Homo sapiens: one gene and its partners. The protein of the gene in region 6 purifies or fractionates together with the protein of the main gene of each other region. This does not show direct contact. Each region holds a gene or a part of one and is shown on either strand. Other genes may lie near its edges.

Region 1 (3,500 bases), on a different chromosome or scaffold from region 6:
AGCCCAACCCCAGAGAACCAAAGGTATGACCTGATATTCAGTGGCCCCAGCCAGGTCTTTACAGGAAGACCCTCATATCTCAGGTCTAAGAAGAGCCAGCTGATGGTTTTTAAAAAGAGTGGAATTAGTTACTCCAACCCACTTATTCAGATCTTATTTTGTTCACAATACAGTCCCTAGATTGTAGGCCCATTGGAGGCCACAGCAAAGCCTTTGTGTTCCAGTTGGCCTGATGTGCCATCTCTCAGTAATGTTCCCTTAACAGCCAGACTTCCCTAAGCCCAGCTGGGAGCTCTGAAGGTATGCGAGCCCTCCCTCAACCATGAGTGTAGGGAAAGGGACCAGGGGCCCCAGGCTTTCCTGTCAGTAATGCAGAAGTTCCTCAGATTTAGGGAAGGGGGAGCAGAGGCATAACTTTGATTCTGACAAAGAGGCATTCAGAGAGACTGAAAGGTCATTTAACAAACACTGGAATGCTTCCACATACTAGGTGCTAGGAGATACAAAACCATATAGGTCCTGGAAGGGAGGATTGATTTTTTCATTTTGGTACGTAGTAGATATTAGGGGCTTAGGAAATACACATCGAAATGAAGAGTGCATTTGCCATGTTGAACCGTTAGCCGGTATCTTATTTCCCCATTTTAAAAGTTTTAGAATCTGTGGTTGAGGACTTGTGGCCATCAGTTTTCCATAGCCAACAGACTGTTCACTACTGCCTTCAGAGCTCCTTGGACCTCAGCGGGCCTTCTTTGGAGATGGCAGAGATGGATTTAGATGTATACTCTACTCGAGCCACCCAGAGAGCCCACAAAGTCAGAGATGGAACAGGGTAAAGGAGTAAGGGTCATATGTGTGAGATGCCTTGATTTGGAACTTTGAGATTTAGGATGAGGTGGGGAAGGGCTAAAGAGGAGCTTGTTCCTGAGCCTTGCTTGGCCGAAGCATTTAGGCTCAAGCGTTTTAGAAAGAGTAGCCCTTGGTCTGAGAACTCAAGGAAACAGCTTTCTGATGAGACGTGTAGCAAGCTTCTGGTTCACATCCTTACCTGATAGTTCTTCAAACACTGCCTGGTCTGGTTCACATCCTTACCTGATAGTTATTCAAACACTGCCTGGAAGCTTCTCCTGAGTTTTTGTCTCTAATCAGCTAACTAACAGGCTGAGTGAGTTTAGTTGTAAGTCATTAATGAAGAAAGCAAAGGTTGGGGCCATTGTCAGGGTTGTGACCTGGGCTAGTTAATTACCTGGAACTGATGGTCTGTGTTACAGAGTGGTGGTATACTTGTCAGGCTTAGAAAAGAAATCAGGATGTGTATCAAAAATCATTTGGGGAAAAGATTTGACCAGCAACTTTAATTTCTCTATGTTTGCAACTATCCTGTTAATGTAGTTGTGATAATTTCAGAATTATACCAGTGCCCTTATGTTATCCTTGCTTTGCAAATTGCAAATTGCTTTGCGTGTCCTGACATCCTTCTGGCCAACAGTAGATGTGGTTTTAGGTTTAGACTCCTGGGATGGAAGCTTTTGCATTCAGGGGAATGACTTTGGGTTTGGGTGAGGATTGTAAAGAGGCAATATGGGTGCCCCACGACAAAGCAGCTATTTGTAGCTTTGTGACAGCTTGACATGCAGAGATCTAGGCTTATCAAGGCACTAAGCTAGGAGTCAGTTGTTTGTATCACTGGAAGATTGGTTACAACTTCCTTCATTGGAAGCTCCTTCAGTGCATGTTAAATGATGTTATTTATAGATAGGGTGGTGAGAAAGCTGTCTAGGTAGATGTCAGTCAGCCCAGTGTAAGAGAGACCTGCTTACTGTGGGTGCTTGGGACTATGTGGAGTGGGTGGGAGGTTTTAACTTGTTCAGTAAGGTCCTTTCCATTGTTCACAATCTGGTGAACCCTTTTTCTAACATGAGGAGCACCCACATAACCAGATCATGTCTGGCTTCCCTGTGGCTTGTGTACAAAGCGTGCTTATTGAGTTAATGTGTAAGCAGGAGACAGCCTTCTGTGCTAAATGGTATATTAACCACTTCTCAGTCTTACCACTCTCTTTCAATTTGTCTCGACCCAGGACCTCAGCAGCCATGTCGAAGCCCCATAGTGAAGCCGGGACTGCCTTCATTCAGACCCAGCAGCTGCACGCAGCCATGGCTGACACATTCCTGGAGCACATGTGCCGCCTGGACATTGATTCACCACCCATCACAGCCCGGAACACTGGCATCATCTGTACCATTGGTGAGTGGGTGTGCCCCTTCCCCCAAAAAAGGGCTTCATGGGCAGTGACCTTTCTCTCCTGAAAAGAGTAACTAAATGTCCTAACAAACCTAGGTGCTACATGGGATACTACACAGATTCTTATGAAAGGACTCAGGTCATAGGAAGTTGCAGTAAAGAATTAGTATGTGCATAGGATGGCAAATACAGTTAATAAGAGAGTATTAGACATTTCAAAATTGCTAAGATGGCGAGGTATGGTGGCTCCCAGCACTTTGGGAGGCCAACGTGGGAGGATTGCCTGAGCCTCGAAATTTGAGACCAGCCTGAGCAACTTAGACCCTGTCTCTCCAAAAAGTGAAAAAAAAAAAAAAAAAATTAGCTGGGCATGGTGGCATGCACCTGTAGTTCTGGCTACATGGGAGGCTGAGACAAAGATCACTTGAGTCCAGGAGATTGAAGTTGCAGTGAGCCATGATCACACCACTGCACTCCAGTCTAGGCAACAGAGCGAGATCCTGTCTTAAGAAAAAAAAATTGTCCGGGCGCAGTGGCACATGCCTGTAATCCAGCACTTCGGGAGGCTGAGGCAGGTGGATCACCTGAGGTCAGGAGTTCGAGACCAGCCTGGCCAACATGGTGAAATCCCATCTCTACTAAAAATACAAAAAAATTAGCCGGGGGTGGTGGCGGGTACCTATAATCCCAGCTACTTGGGAGGCTGAGGCAGGAGAATTGCTTGAACCTGGGAGGCGGAGGTTGCAGTGAGCTGAGATCTGACCATTGCACTCCAGCCTTGGCAACAAGAACGAAACTCTGCCTCAAAAAAAAAAGGAAGAAAAAAGAAAAAAACATCGCTAAGAGTAAATTTCAAATGTTCTCACCACAAAAATGTTAAGTATTTGAAGTCATGGATATGTTAACTAACCTGATTTAATTATTCCACATTGTATCCAAACTGTATGTATTGGATTACATAACTTTGTAACCCAAATTATAAATTACCAGTTTATAATAAAAAATAATTTGTTGCAAAAAGAATCCATATGGTTTAGGTTTTATGCTATAGGCAAAATTTAGAAGATGTTTTCCTTAGCAGGTCTTTGTAGGAGCAACTTAAAGACCTAGGAAAGATCTTTCTAACATGTTCTGTGCTACCAAGATTCTGTGGTTGGACATCTGGCTGGGTTTCAGTGAGGGTGGAGAAGGCTGGCCAAGTCTTAACCTAGGCTTTTCTGATACAGTGGGAGCCTGCAGAACTTGAAGGAAATGGT
Region 2 (2,367 bases), on a different chromosome or scaffold from region 6:
AGAAGAAAGCCAGGACTAGGGTCTGGGTCAGACTGGACTGTGTGTGTTTCTCTCTTCCAGCTTCAGCCCAGTAGCTCCCCTGAGAACAGCCTGGATCCTTTTCCTCCCCGGATCTTAAAGGAGGAGCCCAAAGGAAAGGAGAAAGAGGTTGATGGTCTGTTGACTTCAGAGCCCATGGGGTCTCCCGTCTCCTCCAAGACAGAGTCCGTATCGGATAAGGAGGACAAACCACCCCTGGCACCATCAGGAGGCACTGAGGGGCCAGAGCAGCCCCCACCACCTTGTCCAAGCCAAACTGGCAGCCCCCCGGTGGGCCTCATCAAGGGAGAAGACAAAGATGAGGGCCCTGTTGCTGAGTGAGTGGAGCGGGGTGGGGCTCTGGGAGGATGGCAGGAGGGATGAGAGCAAGCCGTGAAGATTTACTGTACTTTCTCTCACAGACAAGTAAAGAAATCAACGTTGAACCCTAATGCTAAGGAGTTCAATCCTACAAAGCCTCTGCTGTCTGTGGTGAGCTGGGACAGGAGAATGTGGACTTTGGTTTCTGTGGGGAGACTTGGGCAGTGCTTATAGATGAATAGGGGGAGGAACACTTCACTTCCAGGACCACTTGCCTGGCAGGCAGTGTGAGGAGATGTCATAAAAATGTAAGGATGGCACCTTTGGGGCTGGCTTGGGGAAAATGGACTCAGGTCTCTAGGTTTGGGTGATCAGGGGATCAGGGATCCCAGTGAGTCTGATGAGGGGTTAACAGGCTTTTCTTTGGTTCTTGGCATTTGGCTGAGGGAGTATTGGAGTGGGGTAGTCATGAACAGAGGCCAGCTGACTTGGCTTGAGCCCCTGTATTTGGAAGGTTTGTGATCTTGGACGTCACTTACATTCTCTGCCTCACCTGTAACTTTAGAATACTCATCTCCTCATAGGGTTTAATGTGAGGCTTTATCAAGATAAGTGCAGAATATGTTTGGTATGCAGCATTTCACGAATGTTAATTATTACCACTCTAGGCATGGCCAGGAGTAGAGGGGAAAATACAAAATAAAATTGTCCTCCCTTGTTTTTGCAGAATAAATCCACCAGTACCCCAACTTCTCCGGGGCCCCGGACTCATTCAACTCCCTCCATCCCGGTGCTGACAGCAGGCCAGAGTGGGCTATACAGCCCCCAGTACATCTCCTACATACCTCAGATCCACATGGGACCAGCTGTGCAGGTATGCAGAGAGACTGGCCGGGCCCAGGGTTAGCGGGGTGGGATTTGGTTGCGCTGGTTGAGGGACCAGGTCAGGCCTGTCTGGGCATTCGTGAGCGAGTCATTCAGCCTCATCTGTGTCCTCATCCCCAGGCACCTCAGATGTATCCATATCCTGTATCCAATTCAGTGCCTGGGCAGCAGGGCAAGTACCGGGGAGCAAAAGGTGAGCAGGGCTGGGAGGGGCAGGCGGCGAGGCTGCCAAGGGCCTACTGGCAGGTGGAGCTTGAGCTCTCCTCTCCTCCTCCTCTTCCAGGCTCCCTTCCTCCGCAGCGCTCGGACCAACACCAGCCAGCCTCAGCCCCGCCGATGATGCAGGCCGCCGCGGCTGCTGGCCCGCCTCTGGTGGCTGCCACGCCCTATTCTTCCTACATCCCCTACAACCCTCAGCAGTTCCCAGGCCAGCCAGCCATGATGCAGCCCATGGCCCACTACCCCTCACAGGTGACTGCGGCCCAGGAGGGCAGTGAGGATCCAGGGCCCCTGCTAGGGATCCCATCTTCTCCAGAGACTTGGGAGCTGGCTAGGGGTGGCAGGCAGTGTTGTAGGTGGGATCGGCCCTCTGTGGTATTGGCGGTGTCAGACTTGGGCTTGAGCCCTGGCTCTGGTGGTACCTGTAACAAGGCATTGGACATCTGTATCTCTGAAGTGTAGAGAAAATAGTGTCTGCTGGGTGGGATCGTTATGAATGTTGAATCAATAGGGTGATTGTGAGGAGGCCCAAGCGGTGCTGTGCACGCAGTGACTGGCAGGAGGACACCTTCCCAGCTGGCGGCTGTGCCAACCACTCCTCTCTCTGTCCCGCCAGCCGGTGTTTGCCCCCATGCTTCAGAGCAACCCACGCATGCTGACGTCGGGCAGCCATCCCCAGGCCATCGTGTCATCCTCTACCCCTCAGTACCCTTCTGCAGAGCAGCCTACCCCCCAAGCCCTTTATGGTGAGTCCTGCGCCTGGTCCCTCTGCTCTGGGCTGTGTGCCAGCCCCCTCTGGTGTGCTCAGCACTGGTTCTCCCTCTTTCCTGCTGCAGCCACTGTTCACCAGTCCTACCCACACCATGCCACACAGCTCCATGCCCACCAGCCGCAGCCGGCTACCACGCCTACTGGAAGCCAGCC
Region 3 (4,060 bases), on a different chromosome or scaffold from region 6:
ACTTAAAACAGTTTACTAATTATTCAGGATAATCCACCTCAACCTTTCTTTGCAACAATGTCATGGCTAATCACTACTCTGCTTTAAGAATTCTAGGTGCTAGTACCAATAAAAGATACCACAGTTAAAATATGAGGATAGCTTTGGTCAAGTTTTATGAGACTTTAAGTATAATTTTCTAAACATTACACCAAGTGAAACAAGCCAGTCACAAAAGACTACATATTGCATGATTCCATTTCTATTCATGATTGTCTGAGGCTTGAGGGGAGGGAGGATGCCAGCAATGGGAATGACCAGTAAAGGGTATGGATATCTTTTTGGAGTGACAAAAATGTTCTAAAATTAAATTGTAGTGACGGTCACACAACGCTGTGAATGTACTAAAATCCACTAAACTGTACATTTAAAATTGGTGAAGTTTACGGTATGTGAATTATATACCAAAGTCGTTAAAGAAAAAAAATCCACTAAAGAACAAATGAAATAGAGAATCCTCTTAACACGGAGGCATAGCCTATCTTCTGAAGTAATACATAAAGGATTTTACATCAATAAATAACTTTCTAAATGGTAGCCCAGTGGTCAAGAAATGAGAATGAATTTTATTTTTTGGAAAAAGTGCTGATGATTTAAGTTTAACAGAAAATTTACATCATTCCTTCCCAATGGGCTTGCTCTTTACAAAAACAAAAAACTAGACACACCCCTAATAGCTTAAGGAGGTAAGGTCTCTAAAATGTTAGTTCACTAGAACCAGGTTTTTATCTACTGCAGTTCAGTCAGTTTACCAAAACAAGGAAATCAAAGATAACATTATTTTAAAAAGGCAATTAGATGGATTTCCAGATAACGGCACAAATGAAAAGAGGACAGAAAAAAGATGTGTAGTCCAATCCAATTAGTAAAGCTATTTGTTATATCATATATAACTTTACAGGACAGTCTGGACTATCTCTTCAAAGGGTCACTCAAACCTACTGTTTCAAGGTAAGATTTTCGTAAACTTTTCCTTGGCAATCTTGAGAAAGCATCACTGAACATCTTCAATAATAATAAGTTTTTGTTTTTAGAGCTGGAAAAGTAGGTAACAATATTCTTATAAAGTTTTACATGAATTATCAGAAATTCTTACTCTCAGGCCTTTCTCCTCCCTTTTGTACTGTCTTCAATGAAAATTACGGATCCAGTTCTCAGGACCCTCATCCGAATCACACCACCACCACGTGACTGGGTTTACAATTTGTTTTTATGTTTAGTAGGCTTATTCCCTTGTTTAAAATACGATTACAGTGTACTATACTCCTACACTAAAGAAAAAACATGCCTAGCTACCAAAAGAAAATAAACCATAACCGTATTTTGAAGTATTTTACTTCTAGAGCCTTAATGCCATCGGAAAAAAAAACTGCACAAAATACAACTCTTGGAAGATTTAACATCGAAAGCTCAATTTCAATACACACACATCTACCATCACTGGGTTGTTTTAACTGTTTCCCAAAAGTAAAACTTAAAAACAAATTCTAACATATATACGCCAAACTACGCAAAACAATTGCTACATCACCCACCCCCACCCCGAAAGTTCAAAAAGCAACAATTATAGTTCACTGGGCCCAGACGACCTACTTGAAACATGCCCATTTCACATTCCTATTTGATAAATCACCCACTTTTCTGCTCACAAAATCATCCCCGAAGTCCTTATTAACGTTTAAACATGAAAAAAAAAAAACCCTTTGGAAAATCAGTACGTACTCTTTTCGAAGTTCCAAATCTGGAATATAAGGGCCGGCTAAGCGTCCTTTATTCCTCCCAGGAGACTTTCCGTTTATCTAGCTGCCCTAGAGACCAGAAAGCTAGGGAGAGTACGCCCCTTCCCCCTCCCGTCAGCAGCCAAGCCTGGCTTAAAACCCTTCGCCACCGGGCGGCAGAATTACAAAGGAGGCCGTCTGCCTCCTTTGTCCTGGATTTGGGAGTTGAGCACCTTCGTCGCCATTGGCTTTCCTCCCCCAGCTCCAGCCTCTCTCATCTTGGGAATCTGCGTCAGAAGTCACTCGCAGTCCCGTCAGCCCAGGTAGCCCTGCCGAGACTGCGGAGGAAGGGAGGCCGCGGTGGGAGGCCAGGCCCATCCGGCGCCATTTCCATCGGGAGCGCGCCCGGCAAACCCGATCCTCCCTCCACCCAACTGCCCGGCCTTTCCCTGCTCGCTTCACTACCCACCCTCATCCCTTCCAGGGAGCTTTGACCACCCCCTCCCCTGGCCTTCTAGATCAGTTTTCGGAAGCTGGGGAACAAAAAAGTAAAAAGAGCGGGGAAGGGCGGGAAGCCGAGGTGGCCGCGCCACTGTACCCAAAATGGCGGAGGCCAAGCCAGCAGGGAAAGGGGAAAATGCTGGATGTCCCCTACTTCGGGCCTCGGCGTCGTCCACTGAATTCCACCTGAGCAAGTCCTCCCATCGGCAAGCCGCCCTCCCTGAAGTGGGAGATGGTCGGGGAGGCGCAGCCCCGCCGCTTCCAAGCGGCGGCCTCCGAGCGGCGACCACCCCACTACCCCCCAACCCAGCCCCTCCCGGCCTTTCGTCCTTCTCCCGACTCCGCTCTCGAAACCACCAGCCCAACCTACCCCCTTTTACTTCAGATACCCTGTCAGGCGATAGTTACGCCGACTCTGGTGCTCGCGGGGTCCAGTTCAAAGAAGGGAGAAGTCGTTTGCCTCGTGTAGCGCTCGCCACAACGGTTCTCCCAACCGTCTCCAGCGGTGACAACCGCTTAGGGAGCTGCGCAGCACAGCTACTGGCTTGGGGGGATGGGAGGGAACGAGCAAGAAGTGGGGGGCGGAGCGAGAACTGCGAAGGCGGCCGGCCCCACTCTCGCGAGACGGGAAAGTCGGTTTCGCATGGCGCTGGCGGCACGCAGCGCGCCTGCGCGGTGGTGGGTTGCGCAGCTGTTGGGGGCGAGGTAGACCGAGCAGAGGCTGTTCCAGTTAAAGAGCTGCAGCGCGCACCGTTTTTCTTGCTTACGTTAGAACCATCCAGTTTTCAGAGCGTACCATTCTGCCGCCTCGGGGCGATGGCAATGGCAGTTCTGCCAGTGTGTAGAAGGAACCGTGCCGTAGCGCTCTGGAGAAGTTCTCCGGTGATCTGCCCCCACCGTGAACAAATTCTGTGAGGGCCCCGCCCTGGCTAGGCATCGACGGCGCGGAAAGGGCCCCACGTGGTTCGACCGGCAAACGCGGGGCGGATTTTCTGGTCCACCATGTTTGCATTGTGCGGTGAAAAATAGGAGTGTTTCTGGGCCGCGAAGATGAAAGCGTCCACTGGGGCCGATTTCGGCTCTCGGGCTGGGTGTCCGCCTCCTTCCCCTGGCCCAGAGTTGCTGGCCGCCCGCCAGCGCGCTTCGTCCCAATGTGCCGCGCGGGATCCGGGTTTCTTGGGTGTATTCATGTCCACCACGTTACCGTTCTCTCTGCAAATCCTTCCTCTTTTTCTCCTCTGGCCTTCGCGTTTTCATCTCTCCCGCCGTCAGTGCCTCGGAGACTGATTAGCCTGTGGAGGCCGACGTTGGGTTTTTTTTATAGTTTTGCGTTGTTGAAAATTGCGCTTCCAAGTGACACCTAATAAATAAGTACATTTTGGTTTTGCTGTCATGTCACCAAGGTTCCTAATGACACATTATGGCTTTTTTTTTAAGTTCCAAAAAAGGCTGGCCGCGGTGGCTTACGCCTTTGAGAGGCCGAGGGGGAGGATCGCTTGAGCGTAAGAGTTGGAGACCAGCCTGGGCAACATAGTGAGGTGCTGTCTCTACAAAAAATACAAAGATTAGCTGGGCGTGATGGCAGCGCACGGGAGTAGATGGGACTCCCGAGTAGTCCCAGCTACACAGGAGGCTGGGCAAAAGGATGGCTTGTGCCCTGGAAGTTGAGGCTGCAGTGAGCCGTGATTGCGCCAGTGCACTCCAGTCTGGGAGACCGAGGGAGACTCTTGTCTCAAACACAAAGAAAAACCCCGAATTTCTGCGCAGAGGGTTAAGGGGAAGCCTGGTAAAGAGATCAGTGC
Region 4 (3,500 bases), on a different chromosome or scaffold from region 6:
TGGAGAAGCAAAGAAAAGCAGAAGCAGAGATGACTACTTATTTGAGAAAAAAAAAGACTTATTCTAGGTCCGTGTCAAACTTCATTGAATAAATTATCTTCGTTCCTCTCTTCACTATTACAATAAGAGAAGTGGTCCCTATTCATTAATACTAGATTAAATCATGAACATTTTAAGTGTGCATCAGAACTAGAAGAGGTTTATCCATCACCAAAAGTAAAACTGATCAATCTATTACCAAAACAAGATAATAATTTCAGAGCAAAGATACTAGTATATAGAAATTATTCACCTGTAGGATAAAACCTTACAAAATAAGTAGAGTATATTAGTCGAATTAAACGGAATTGCTAAAATTCGACTACTTTCACCTGCAAAAATATCAGTTTCATGTGGTTCAACTTCATATATCACAAGATAAGACAAAGAAAGCAATTCCATCATAACAGCCAACTTGTACACACAACACACACACACACACACACACACACACACATGCAAACACAGACAAATGGAAAAAACACTGGCAAAAGGAAGCATTCTTTTATCTAAAATATACCCAAGTTTATTTGCACTAGAATTGATAACCAATAATGAAAGATATTTCCATATCACAAACTAGTCCAATCCCAGACTACACAGAAAATGTCCTCTGTAATATGAAACTATATATTGTTTCTCTATATAGAGAAAGCAAACTAGATAATAAATGCCAAATTACCTGATAAGGAACGATTGACATTAGAGTTGGAATCTCCAACAGTAACTGCAGTAACTCCAAAGGACCCAGTCTTAGCTGAGGTCACTGGGATGAAGGTCCTGCTTTCCTTCGTGTGTGGGTAATGAGAGGTATAACCTTCCAGTAAAGTAGTTGAGCCTTCAGAATGATTTGGGTCTCTTCTTCCACCTGTGACATCATTCCTATCTGTGTGGAGGTGGAATCAGTGATGAACCCGTATTTGTAAGATCACCACCCACCATGTGCTTGTCTCCAGAACACACAATTGCTGCAAAAGCTTTCCACTTGTTATCCATAAATAGGGAGAAATAGAGTGAAGTTTGTCATACTATTGAACAGAATAAATATTTTGCAATAGACACTACTTGGACATCACTCAACAGAAGAGATTTTGGTGATCTTAATACCCAGAATTGGCATTTGTTGCAACATCTGCTTGGGTTATTAGGTAAGGCTATGTCACTACAACTGTGATCTTGAAGTCAGCTGAGGTACTAGATAATCTTGAGTTCTTTCTCAATTGGATTCATCTTTGATGTAGTGGAGGAAACATATCATTGGATTGAAAGATAAAATTTTGCTGCCTGCAATTAAAATAGCAAATGCATGGTTTCAAAGGCCTGAGGCTACTAATTTAATTATTCTTTTCTTTTCCAGAAGGGACTGCTTTTTAGTCATCAGCACCATGGAGGTCCAGAGGACAAAAGGCAAAACAATATTATTGTGAGGAATGTAAAGTGATATAATCAGACATTTACGCCAATTATAAATCACACTGCAAAAGAACTGAAATCATAGCAAACAGTCTATTGGACCACAGCGCAATCAAATTTGAAATCAAGACTAAGAAACTCACTCAAAACCATACAATTACATGGAAATTAAATAACCTGCTCCTGAATGACTTCTGGGTAAATAATGAAATTAATGCAGAAATCAAGAAGTTCTTTGAAACTAATAAGAACAAAGATACAACATATCAGAATCTCTGGGACACAGCTAAGGCAGTAGTAAGAGGGAAATTTATAGCACTAAATTTAAACGCCCACATAAAAAAGTTAGAAAGATCTCAAGTTAACAAAAATAAATAAATAAAATAAATCATATATAAGCAATCCATTATTGTTAAAACAAATCACTAACTCTAGAGTGAAAGAAACCCAACTTTTAAGATGAAGAAATGTAGTTTGCACTTAATGTACGAAGAGGTATATAAAACAGAAAAATCAGAGAACCACCACCAGACGCACCTTTTGATTAAAAGTAACAGTGTAACGGCAGCTAATGGATGCACCTCCACCAAAGACACTGCAAAAGTACCCATAATTGATTGATTCTTATCAATAGCTGAAGCCAACTAGGTTTTATAATCCTTACTGCTTGATGTCAGAGTAGAAGTTGTTGGATGGTCTTTATCTTCTTCCAAGCCTTCATGTGATGTAGAGAAGCTCTGAGAATTACTCTGCTCTGTTTCAATGAGGAATGAATCCAGTGTTAATTTGAAGCTACGGTACAAATCCTGTTATCTGCTAGCAAGGAAAATCTAGCTAGAGTAGAGTCAGATGGATAGGTGCATAGGAAGACCAAGGTTTGTGCACACAATTCTCCTCTGATTGATAGAAATATACAGAAGAATTCTATTTTGCCCCTATTTGGTTCTGAAGACCCTTTATTTCTCAGTATAATCATCAAAGGTAAAGTGGCAAGGTGAAGACTGAGCCAAAACTTTGCCTATCCTGGATTGTCCAGGCTCAATTGCAGCATTGCTCCCAGTCACTCCAGAAAACCAGAGAACACAGAGACATGGAAAAAAGAATATTTGAATCCCAATGCTCCTATCAGTAACCAAAAGCACCTAACTGTGTGTCAAGAAATGTGACGGCAGGGAAAATGAACACTATGATAGCCTGTAGTCTAGTTGTAACCACAAAAGAAAAAGAAGCCTATCTAGAATAGCCTACTCAAGTAACACAGATCAAATTTATACAAGGAAATACTTAGCTACCTTGTAAAGGTCATTAAATTAAAGTTACCATTTTACTCCATTATTAAGTTATTTCTTAATTTCACCTGTGCATTGGGATTTTCATCACTGCACCAAGGAAACGCTTGCCTGGGCAAACACAGGGCCCTCAGTGACATATATCAACTGGAGGTTGACCCATTGCCCATATCTAAAATCACTTGGACTGTTTCAAGTTTATTTCTTTTGTGTTCTTTTAAGAAAGGTACTGACCTGAGTTGCAGGTGCAAAAACTTCATAAAGCACACCCATAAGCCATGCCCACCACCGAATAAATATTACAACCAGGAGAAAGACAGTCACTAAATCCCAAACCCAATGTCAGAACAAAAGCCAACAGTGACATAAAACGGAAATATAAGTCCTTCTTTGGCAAGGACCATTCATAGGCTTATTTGCATCTCCTTTGATGCTTAACGCTGTGCTATTTACATTGCTGACCATCAATACATGCTTGCTGATTTTTTTCCTTTGCCTAAAGGGCTCATATGAAGGACTCTGCCCATTATGTGTGGCAAGCAGTAAAATGGGACCTTCTTAATTCTAGATTTCTTTTGTATTCCTCAAAGAAATTATGAACGACTTTAGGCTGATCTCTAGGACATCCCTGCACATAGAGTAGAAATTAAGGCTACTAGAATTTGAACATTTCTTAGTGATAGAAAGAGATACTAGCAATGTTTTGTTGTTGTTGTTGTTCCAGGGATCCCGCCACCTTTGTTGATTGTCAATAACATG
Region 5 (3,500 bases), on a different chromosome or scaffold from region 6:
TAGAACAGAGCTGAGCCCATTCCTGTTGCTCCGTCATGACTGCCTCCCCGACCCCGGGGAGGAAGGCAGGGCTCAGCTCTGCATGGAAGAATGTGTGCTGCTAATTGAGGTTGAATCATTTGGCACTTAATTTTCACTTTCATTTGAAATCCTCTCTTCGGTAAACTGGCGAATCCAGCCTGGGATTCCAGTGGACAGGATGACATCAGCCTCCCTAGCTGTGTGCGCCAGGCCCCACCAGGTTCTGCCTGGCCTCTCGGCAGCCCCATCCCTGCTCCTGCCGCTGTGTGTGTGGGTGCCTCATGATGTCCAGTGGCTCAAGCCTCTGCCTTAGCTCAGGCACCCCTTCTGTTGGGTATTCTGTTCCCTCCTGCTCCACCTCTCCCTGCCCCGTGACACCTCCAGCTGCCTTCATCTTTCAACCAATAGCACGGTAAGGGCCTCCCCTCCTGGCTGATGTGCCAGTTTCCCCCTCTGTTCCCCTCTGGCCCCTCCCTAAGACTTCTCCAAGAGGGTCCCTCCCTCCCTCCCTCCTTCCCTCCCTCCCTTCCTCCCTCCCTTCCTCCCTTCCTTCCTTCCTTCCTGACGGAGTCTCGCTGTGTCACCAGGCTGGAGTGCAGTGGTGCGATCTCGGCTCACTGCAACCTCTGCCTCCCGGGTTCAAGCGATTCTGCTGCCTCAGCCTCCCAAGTAGCTGGGACTACAGGCATGCACCACCACACCCAGCTAAGTTTTGTATTTTTGGTAGAGACAGGGTTTCACCATGTTGGCCAGGATGGTCTCGATCTCTTGACCTGGTGATCCACCTGCCTCAGCCTCCCAAAGTGCTGGGATTACAGGCGTGAGCCACCGTGCCCAGCTGGGACCTTTTATAAATGCAAATCTGATCTCATCACCTCTGCCTGGCTTGGCCCCTTGCTGGTTCCCCATTGCCCTGAGAACCAAGACCTGACTGGTCCGTGCCCCTATGACATCAATCCTTTCTCACCCCCAAGTCACTAGCCATGCGTGCCCTGTGGTCTCTGGGTTCCTTGAATGCACCATCCTTCCTCCGTGGGGGTGGGCTTCGGTGGTGGTCAGGTGATACCTGGGTGCTGGGGCCCCTTCCACCTGCCCCATTCCCCTCCTCCACTCCATTCTAGGGCCAGGCCTCAGAGTTCTACAGGCACTAGATGAAAACATGGTCTCTGCTCTCTCCAACTCCATTTCCAGCCATGAAATAGCAGCGATGCTTACCATGTGGGCCTTTCTGAATTGGGTAACAGGATCTAGCCTTGCTCTGCCACCCACTGGCTGGGAGATCTTGGGCAAGTCCCTTCCTCTCTGTAAGCCTCAATTTCTTCATCCGGAAAATGGGGTGAGGGTTGCCCATGGTGGTCTGTGCATAAGGTTCCTCTCTGGTCCTGGCTGCCTGTGGGTCTCTTAAGTAAGGGGGACCCTCAGGGGTGTCACACCATTGACACATTCCTGCACCTGTCCCTCTGGTCCTCTGGGGAGGGGCCCTGTGGCAGGGGCATTTGGGGACATGGAAAATGAGACTGCTTAGCTTCTCAGCATCTCCCAGTGGGGTGGCTTGAACATCCTCTGTTTTTTTGGATTCTCCTAATGGCTCCAAGAAATAGGTATTTTCCCCTCCACATTAAAGAGATTGAGGCTCAGAGAAGTTAGGTCACTCACCCAGGGTCACACAGCCAGGATGTCCTGGCTTCCCAAGGAACTCTGTGTTCCCGCCCAACAAGAAAGGTCCTTGACCTCTTCAGGCCTCAGTTTCCTCATCTGTCTAATGGGGGTAACTTAAGATCCTTTTGTCTTGGATCACATGAGACTTCAAGACCTAACATACAAAGACCCTCAGCCCCCTGCCTGGCCTCAGAGAAGGTGGCTGTTGCTTCTCAAGGTCCCAGCTCTTTCCCCATCACCGTGGCCCTGAGATTCCAGGGATGACCCAGAGGAGACAGGTGAATCTTGTGGGGCTTCTTGGCACTAGCACTGTGGCTGGACATTAGAGGAGAGAGTGTCCAAGCATTTCCCAAAAGTGTGTTTCTGGTCAAAACTGGAAAAACAACACAGGTGTGGCTTTTCCCATCATGCCTCACTGTGTCTCCCTGGACAGCGCCTTCTTCCTGAAATCCCACAGCAGTGTAGGTGGTACCCAGAGTAGGTGCACGCCAGCACCTGCTGTGCACCAGACCGCGGGCTGGCCCCAGGGTGCAGCGGCAAACAAATGAGGCTTAGTGCCTGCCACCTGGGATGCTGAGTTCCCCAAGGAGTGCTGGTTTAGGTGGGGTGGTAGCCCCGACATGGCTGGAAGTCAGGAAAGGCTTCTTGGAGGAGGTGACATTGAGCAGGGGCTGGAGGGATGAGTAAAAGTCAGCCAGCCTGGCAGTGGGGAGGAAGAGAAGGGAGAGAGGAAGGAGAGTGGGAAGTCAGGGGCCACTGTTTGCAGGCACTTTCCAGACAGGCGGGAACAGGGCCGTTTGAGGAACTGAGAGGTAACCAGGAATTCTGTCCAGGGCTGGACAGGCAAAGTGTATTAAAAAGGCTGGGCTGCCCACTTTTTGGGGGTGTGGGGGACTCCTCTCAGGAGAGGTGTCTTTTGTGTTACTCTGAAGTGTTAGCGCTTCTGCAGCCTAACATTGAGTAGCGTTCTCTGAGGACTTCCTGGAGGAGGTGGTTTAATTCCCTTCCACCTGCATTCACTGGGTGACAGGCCTGAGACTGTGGAGAATAAGCAGGCATCGGCCTGGCCCACACAGAACCCACAGCCCTTGAAGGGGTGGAGACTCACCAAGTGCCTGCTCGTGGTCCAGGCAAAGTAGTCACCTGAGAGAGGGAACCATGGGCTCTTTACAGGTAGAGGACGACGAAGCTCCGCCAGAGAGGAGGACTTGTCTGGGCAGGGTTTTGAAGCATGAATAGAAGTTGGGAGTGAAATGGGGCTGGAAGCGTATTCCAGAGGGAGATACAGACAGGATCAAAGGCTTGGAGGGCTGGGCAGCCTGGAGGGTGTGGGGGCCAGAGACCAGGTTGGTGAGAACATATGGACAGCTAAGGTGGGAAGGACATTCTGGGCAGGGGCTTTGTGTGGACCAGCACAGGGAGGTGGGCAGTGTGAGCCTTTCCCGGGAAACGGCTTGGCTGGTGTGCGAGGGGAGGAGTAGGAGGAGAAGTCAGAGGAGCCGGAGGTCTCAGTGGACCAGGTCAGGGCCTGTGTGGGGGACCACAGCGGGAAAAGTGACAGTGATTCCCTAACCCTCAGGGGCAGGCGGTGAGGGCATTCCCGGAGGCACAGCTGTGGCCTGGGGCAGTGAGCACTGGTCGTGGTCACTGGTTTCTGGTTTCTTACCTAGTTGGGTCACTCACTGGCTGTGTGGCCTTGGGCAAGTCACTGCATCTCTCTGAGCCAAGTTTTCCCTTCCACAGCGTGGGTAGCCAGCACCTTCCTCGCGGGGATGTGTGTAGCAAGAACTGGCTTGCAAAACCTCCCCTATTCCGAGCTT
Region 6 (3,500 bases):
GAGTCATATTCCAATAAATGTAAACATAGGGCAGTTTCTTATAAACGCAAGGCATTATTGGTATGCTAATTGTATGTTCCACTTTCTGCATGCTTAATCATCACCTTCCAGCTCCAATAAATTGTACCTTAATTGCTGAGGATGTATTATAGTCTTTCTATTCTTAATATCTCAGTAGAAGAAACATTTTTAAAAGTGCTCTGATAATATTGCTTACGTTGTTAGATAAATGGCTAATTCTTTTCCAAACGTTAGACACAGCAGTTATAGTTGCACAACCTGGTATTAGCTTTAAGTGGTTTTCCCCACTCCTAGTCCTGTTAGCTATCTCTTATATGATTGAGTCTATCTTTTTATGGTGCTACCAGTCAGAGGTCATTTCTACAACCAAAGTCACCTTGTATTAGAGAATAATTAGTTGGCACAGAGTAATTCACATTTATCCTCACATTGTGCACTGAATATAAGATAGAGAAGTAGTTAACAGAAAAATACTGGGGATGAGTGCACAGTTTTCTCTTCTTTTGTAGAATGTTTTCAATACAACTGATAAAATTATTTTCACATGCTATAGGTAGCCCTAATGGAGAACCTTGTGGAAAGACTTGTTTGGAAGAGAGAGACAATCAGTGGTTGGGGGTCACACTTTCCAGACAGCCAGGAGAAAATGGATCCATCGTGGTAGGTATTGGAACTGGTCCACAGATCCATCGTGAAATCAGCTATCCTGGGTGCAGCTTTCACATCATTTGGTCTACTTTTATTTTATTCAGACTTGTGGGCATAGATGGAAAAATATATTTTACATAAAGAATGAAAATAAGCTCCCCACTGGTGGTTGCTATGGAGTGCCCCCTGATTTACGAACAGAACTGAGTAAAAGAATAGCTCCGTGTTATCAAGGTAAGGCATGATTTTGATACGAATTAGATAAAGATAAGTAAGTGAATACCTTTTAGTGTTTTAAATTTATGTTCAAGTTTAGATGTTCAGAGGAGAGGGAGATCTTCTAAGTAATTATGTTCTTTTTAACTACTCAATTTCTTTCTTTACCCAATTGCAATAGCATTATTTTTCATAAATGCACTTTGTGCTATAAAAATTCTACAATTTGAATAACTCTGAAATCTAGCTCTTTAACTACCCACTTTTGCATCAAATTTACTTTCAATTTGGTATAGGTGAGACTAGTACCCAGCAAATATAGGACATTTAAATTGTGAAATTATATTGGAAGTCTGATTAAAAAGAAAGACTTTAGGTTTCCTTTTTTACCTTTAGCTTCCAGGAGTAATTGGGAAGAATAATCAGTGTAAGCAAATCTTTCATTCGCACTCACTATCTCTTTTTCTAATTTACATGTTTTCCTTCAAGCAGCAAGAGATTCGTGTCTTGAGTTTGAAACATTTTTCTCATGGTAACTCTATGCTATAGGTAGCATCAGCAAGTACAGAGCTAGGACATAACAGAAGTGAGCAGAATTGGGGTGAATGTCAACAGAGCATGTCAGAGGATATCTGCAGCAAAACTAAAATCCAACAATGCGTCTTTAGGAGCTAAGAAACATATGAATGCAAATTCATAATTTTCTAACCACCCTCACTCAAAAAAAATCCCTCAGCACGCAAAGAAAAATTTTATTGGTTGGCAAAACTTTGGCCAAGTATTTGAGTTCAATTATGGGTGCTAATAAGACTTTGGTCTTTCTTCCTTGGAATGTGATGTCACAGAGCAGCTTATATTACATATATTCCTATTTTGCCTTCGGATACCCAAAAGATAAAAAAGTGAATATTGATTCTCAGTTGCAATAAAACTCAGTCTTGATTTCTGTATGTTTGCTGTCTTCTTTTTCCTAATAGTTTTCGGTTTATCTTTAAAATATTTTCATAGTAGAGTTTTTAGTTTTTCTCGGATATACATAGCCACATACTACAAAAATCTCAAGATGCCATAAACCTAACCCATCTACAATTGTAAAATACAGGATCAGGTAAGATATATTTTTTTAAAGGGATGAAAACTCCTGACCAGAAATGGTCATTATAAATGACTTACCAATTTATTGAAGTTTTCTGCTTAGCAAAGCCAAAAGGAAGCTGTGGTTCCAATTCTTATTTTCATAGAAGTTTACTTATATCATTTTTTGGAAGAAGCAAAGCTTTGCCCCCTTAGAAAGTTCCAAAAGCATTCATTCATGGGACTTTGTAATAATAGACCTTTATGTCCATGCAGATCTTGATTCAGTCTATATTTCAGTTGGGCAAAATCTAAGAAAGGACACTCTCTTCAATTAATGGTGTTAGCAATAGCAAAGACATGGAATCAACCTAAATGCACATCAATGTTGGATTGGATAAAGAAACTGTGATACATACACACTGTAGAATACTACACAGGCATAAAAAATAACGAGATTATGTCCTTTGCAGCAACTTATATGGAGCTGGAGGCCAATAACCTAAGCGAACTAACACAGGAACAGAAAACCAAATACCACATGTTCTCACTTATAAGTGGGAGCTAAACATTGAGTACATATGGACACAAGGGACACAAAGTAGGCACAAACACTAGGGCCTACCTGGTGGTAGACGGTGGGAGCAGAGAGAGGATTGAAAAACTACCTATCAGGTACTATGCCTATTACCTGCATGGGGAAATAATCTGTACATCAAACCCCTACAACACGCAATTTATCTATGCAACAAACTTGCACATGAACCCTGAACCTGAAAGTTTTTTTTTAAATGCCTTTGGGAAAATTGGCTATCTGCGTGCAAAAGAATGAAATTGAACGCTTATCTTAGCAAATATACCAAAGTCAACTAAAATGGATTAAAGACTTAAACACGATACCTGAAACCATAAAATTTCTAGTGGAAAACATAAGAGAAAAGCTACTTGACATTAGTCTAGGCAATGAGTTTTTGGAAATTACACCAAAAGCTCAAACAACAAAAGCAAAAATAAACAAATGAGACTATATTAGAAAGCTCCTGCATAGCAAGGGAGATAATCAACAGAGTGAAGAGACAGTCTGCAGAATGGGAAATAATATTCGCATAAGTCCTATATATTTAAAATGTATAAGGATCTCACCAACTCGATAGCAAAAAACCAAATAACTGATTAAAAATTAGTCAAGAGACCAAATGGCTTTCTTTCCAAAGAAGGCATCAAAATGGCCAATAAGTAGATGAAAAGGTGCTTAACATCACCAATCATCAAGGAAATGCAAATTACAAACCACTATGAAATATCACTTCACACCTATTAGAATTGTCATTATCAAAAAGGCAAGAGATAACAAGTGTTGGCGAAGGTGTGAAGAAAAGGGAACCCTTGCACACTGTTGGCTGGAATGTAAATTGGTACAGCCATTATAGAAAACAGTAGAGAAGTTACTCAAATTAAAAATAAAACTACCATATGGTCCAGCAATCCCTCTTCTGGGTATATATCCAAAGGAAATGAAATCAGTACCACATAAAGAGATC
Region 7 (3,500 bases), on a different chromosome or scaffold from region 6:
TGATTCTCCTGCCTCAGCCTCCTGAGTAGCTGGGACTATAGGTATGTGCCACCATGCCCGACTAATTTTTGTATTTTTAGTAGAGACGGAGTTTCACTATGTTGGCCAGGCTGGTCTTGAACTCCTGACCTCATGATCTGCCTGCCTCGACCTCCCAAAATGTTGGGATTACAGGTGTGAGCCACTGCGCTTGGCCACTTACCTGCTTTTTGTTACTGTAGATTAGTTTACATGTTAAGAACTTTACATAAACAAAAACCACATATAAATATAAATGCACTTTCTTTTCCATAGGCTTCTTTCATTCTGCATAATTTTGCATTCATGTTGGTGAGCTTTTAATTCTCTCTCGTGGTCTTTTTTTCTCTCATTTTGTATAAACTTTTTGAGCTTGGCCAACATGTTGAAACCCTGTCTCTACTAAAAATAAAAAATTAGCCAGGCATCTTTAATACCAGCTCCTAGGGAGGTTGAGGCAGGAGAATTGCTTGAACCTGGGAGGCAGATGTTGCAGTGAGCCGAGATCGTGTTACTGCACTCCAGCCTGGGCGACAGAATGAGACCCTGTCCCGGAAAAAAAAAAAAAAAGTTGCAAACATAGTACAAAGAGTTCTCGTATCACTTGCCTGCTTCTCCTGTTGTTAACATCTTACATAACCATAGAAAAATTATCAGAGATAGATGAACATTTCTGCAACAGTATTCACTAAACTATAGATCTTATTTTAATTTTTACCTGTTTTTTCCACCAGTGTCCTTTTTCTCTTCTAAAATTTTTATCTAGGATCATCCCATGATGCATTTAGCTATTTCTGTCTATTTGTTTGCCATCTGCAGTAGTCTCTGTCTTATCTTTTGTGACCTTGTCACTCTCAAAGAGTAATGATCAGTTATTTTGTATAATGTTCCTCAATTTGGGTTTGTGTGATGTTTTCTCTTGGTTAGACTTATTAGGTATTTTTGGCAAGAATACCACAGAAATGATACTGTCTTTCTCAGTGCCTCCTACCATGGGATTCATATTGTCAGTATGTCTTATTGGTGATATTGTCCTCCATCAATTGGTTATGGTTGTGTCTGTAGGGTTTCTCTAAAGTTACCTTTTTTTGGACAGTTAATATATATTTTAGGGGAGATACTTCAAGAAGATGCAAATCCTGTTTTTCCTCAAACTTTTGCCTGCTCATTTTCGCATCCATCTGTGGGTCTTGTCTGTAACAGTTATTATTGTACTTTTGCCTCATGGTAATTCTCCCTCGCTCTGTCACCCAGGCTGAATGCAGTGGCACGGGTACGATCATGGCTCACTGCAGCCTCGACCTCCTGGGTTCAAGTGATCCTCCCACCGTAGCCTTCCAAGTAGCTGGGACTATAGGCATGCACTACCATGCCTGACTAATTTTTTATTTTTTTGTAGAGACAGAGTCTCAATATGTTGTCCAGGCTGGTCTTGAACTCCTGCACACAAGCAGTCTACCTGCCTCAGCCTCCTGAGGTGCTGGGGTTATAGGCATGAGCCACTGTCCTGGGCCTGAGTATGTTCTTTTGTTTGTTTTATTTTTATTTTTTATTTTCATTTTTCTTTTTTTTTTTTTTGAGTACGTTCTTGAATGGAGAAGTTGAACTGTCTCGCACCTGCTAAATCAGTTTTCATTGCAGTTTATTTAATGCAAAGTATATTTCTGTAATTTCTTATATTCTTAGAGCAAAGCATATCTGATTTAAATTATGTTTTGGTCAGGCGTGGTGGTTCAAGCCTATAATCCCAGCACTTTGGGAGGCCGAGGTGAGCGGATCACCTGAGGTCAGGAGATCGAGACCAGCTTGGCCAATGTGGTGAAACCCTGTCTCTACTAAAAATACACAAAAAAAATTAGTGGGGCATGGTGGCGGGCACCTGTAATCCCAGCTACTCGGGAGGCTGAGGCAGGAGAATTACTTGAACCTGAGAGGCAGAGGTTGCAGTGAGCCGAGATCACACCACCGCACTCCAGCCTGGGTGATGGAGCGAGACTCCCCTTTTTTTCCTTCTTTTTTTTTTTTTTTTTTTTTTGAGATAGAGTCTTGCTTCATTGCCCAGGCTGGAGTGCAGTGGTGTGATCTCAGCTCACTGCAACCTCTGCCTCCTGGGTTCAAGCAATTCTCCTGCCTCAGCCTCCTGAGGGAGCTGGGATTACAGGTGCCCGCCACTACGCCCCACTAATTTTTTTGTGTATTTTTAGTAGAGACAGGGTTTCACCATGTTGGCCAAGCTGGTCTTGATCTCCTGACCTCAGATGATCCGCTCACCTTGGCCTCCCAAAGTACTGGGATTACAGGCTTGAGCCACCATGCCCAGCTGAGAATCCCTATGAAAAAGCAAGGCCAGACACTGTGTCTCATGCCTATAATCCCAGCACTTTGGGAGACTGACGCGAGCAGATCACTTGAGGTCAGGAGTTCGAGACCAGCCTGGCCAACATGGTGAAAACTTGTCTCTACTAAAAATACATAAAAAAAATTGGTGGGGCATGGTGGCGAGCACCTGTAATCCCAGCTGCTCAGGAGGCTGAGGTGCGAGAATCGCTTGAACCTGGGAGGCGGACATTGCAATGAACCAAGATTGCACCACTGCACTTCAGCCTGGGCGATAGAGCGAGACTCATTCTCAAAAAAAAAAAAAAAAAAAAAAAGATATTTTAAGTGATGTTTTAATAAGCTGCATCTGTTTTCAGTTCATTTATGTGTATAATTCAGTATTTGCCATACAGTAGACCCTTGGTATTTTTAGATTTTATATTTGTTTTAACTGTTTTGACTGATTCTTAAGGGCAGTCAAATTAATAGTTTATAATTTTGCTGAGATGTAAATTTGAATCACATGTGCTGTGGGGTTGGTTTTTCAATCACATCATTAGGTACACTGAGTTCTGTGAAGTTTTACCTTACTGCATTTCCTGGGCAGTTGAGCAGTCATTTTTATCTTTTTAAAATCTTTTAAAATTTATTTATTTATTTTTATTATTTTTTGAGATGGAGTCTTACTCTGTCGCCCAGGCTGGCATAATCTCGGCTCACTGCAACCTTCGACTGTCGGGTTCAAGCCATTCTTGTGCCTCAGCCTCCAGAGTAGCTGGGATTACAGGTGTGTGCCACCATACCCGGCTAATTTTTGTATTTTTTGTACAGACGGGGTTTCACCATGTTGGCTAGGATGGTCTCGAACTCCTGAGCTCAAGCAATCTGCCTGCTTCGGCCTCTGGGAAAGTGCTGTGGAATTATAGGTGTGAGTTACTGGGCCCAGCCTGAGCAGTCATTTTTTACTGGGGACATACATCAGAGTCACTTGTAAAGCCTTTTGAAGTACAGATCCCTATCTGTTGGCCCTTCAAATCAGAATCTGCAGGGATGGGTTTCAGCTCTCTACATTTTAAAAGTTTTTCCAGGTGATTCGGTTGTGCCTGCTTAAGAACGGCTACAAAAATTTTTGTGAGTTGGGGATTTGCAGAAATTGCAATATG

Evidence for each region.
Region 1: the proteins of ITGA4 (region 6) and PKM purify together in Homo sapiens (affinity purification with mass spectrometry, with the first as the bait; one large-scale study listed by BioGRID). This does not show direct contact.
Region 2: the proteins of ITGA4 (region 6) and ATXN2L purify together in Homo sapiens (affinity purification with mass spectrometry, with the first as the bait; one study listed by BioGRID). This does not show direct contact.
Region 3: the proteins of ITGA4 (region 6) and HNRNPH3 purify together in Homo sapiens (affinity purification with mass spectrometry, with the first as the bait; one study listed by BioGRID). This does not show direct contact.
Region 4: the proteins of ITGA4 (region 6) and CD44 purify together in Homo sapiens (co-immunoprecipitation; one study listed by IntAct). This does not show direct contact.
Region 5: the proteins of ITGA4 (region 6) and RAC2 purify together in Homo sapiens (affinity purification with mass spectrometry, with the first as the bait; one study listed by BioGRID). This does not show direct contact.
Region 7: the proteins of ITGA4 (region 6) and DRG1 purify together in Homo sapiens (affinity purification with mass spectrometry, with the first as the bait; one study listed by BioGRID). This does not show direct contact.

Annotation. Positions count from the first base shown.
Region 1 is NC_000015.10:72,217,691-72,221,190, reverse strand, and holds part of PKM (pyruvate kinase PKM), read left to right. Parts: coding exon of another isoform or gene 1-23; intron 24-2,080; coding exon of another isoform or gene 2,081-2,093; coding exon 2,094-2,247; intron 2,248-3,500. UniProt on the Homo sapiens protein: Catalyzes the final rate-limiting step of glycolysis by mediating the transfer of a phosphoryl group from phosphoenolpyruvate (PEP) to ADP, generating ATP.
Region 2 is NC_000016.10:28,832,999-28,835,365, forward strand, and holds part of ATXN2L (ataxin-2-like protein), read left to right. Parts: intron 1-60; coding exon 61-356; intron 357-440; coding exon 441-510; intron 511-1,066; coding exon 1,067-1,213; intron 1,214-1,344; coding exon 1,345-1,417; intron 1,418-1,507; coding exon 1,508-1,695; intron 1,696-2,059; coding exon 2,060-2,189; intron 2,190-2,279; coding exon 2,280-2,367. UniProt on the Homo sapiens protein: Involved in the regulation of stress granule and P-body formation.
Region 3 is NC_000010.11:68,330,804-68,334,863, reverse strand, and holds the start of HNRNPH3 (heterogeneous nuclear ribonucleoprotein H3), read right to left. Parts: upstream 2,801-4,060; 5' UTR 2,648-2,800; exon of another isoform or gene 2,629-2,647; intron 2,081-2,628; exon of another isoform or gene 1,762-2,080; intron 1-1,761.
Region 4 is NC_000011.10:35,208,671-35,212,170, reverse strand, and holds part of CD44 (CD44 antigen isoform 1 precursor), read right to left. Parts: intron 2,554-3,500; exon of another isoform or gene 2,207-2,553; coding exon 2,117-2,206; exon of another isoform or gene 1,397-2,116; intron 926-1,396; coding exon 722-925; intron 1-721. UniProt on the Homo sapiens protein: Cell-surface receptor that plays a role in cell-cell interactions, cell adhesion and migration, helping them to sense and respond to changes in the tissue microenvironment.
Region 5 is NC_000022.11:37,234,270-37,237,769, reverse strand, and holds part of RAC2 (ras-related C3 botulinum toxin substrate 2), read left to right. Parts: intron 1-3,500. UniProt on the Homo sapiens protein: Plasma membrane-associated small GTPase which cycles between an active GTP-bound and inactive GDP-bound state.
Region 6 is NC_000002.12:181,474,386-181,477,885, forward strand, and holds part of ITGA4 (integrin alpha-4 isoform 1 preproprotein), read left to right. Parts: intron 1-574; coding exon 575-681; intron 682-773; coding exon 774-903; intron 904-1,434; coding exon of another isoform or gene 1,435-1,466; exon of another isoform or gene 1,467-1,835; intron 1,836-3,500. UniProt on the Homo sapiens protein: Integrins alpha-4/beta-1 (VLA-4) and alpha-4/beta-7 are receptors for fibronectin. They recognize one or more domains within the alternatively spliced CS-1 and CS-5 regions of fibronectin. They are also receptors for VCAM1.
Region 7 is NC_000022.11:31,406,104-31,409,603, forward strand, and holds part of DRG1 (developmentally-regulated GTP-binding protein 1), read left to right. Parts: intron 1-3,500. UniProt on the Homo sapiens protein: Catalyzes the conversion of GTP to GDP through hydrolysis of the gamma-phosphate bond in GTP. Appears to have an intrinsic GTPase activity that is stimulated by ZC3H15/DFRP1 binding likely by increasing the affinity for the potassium ions.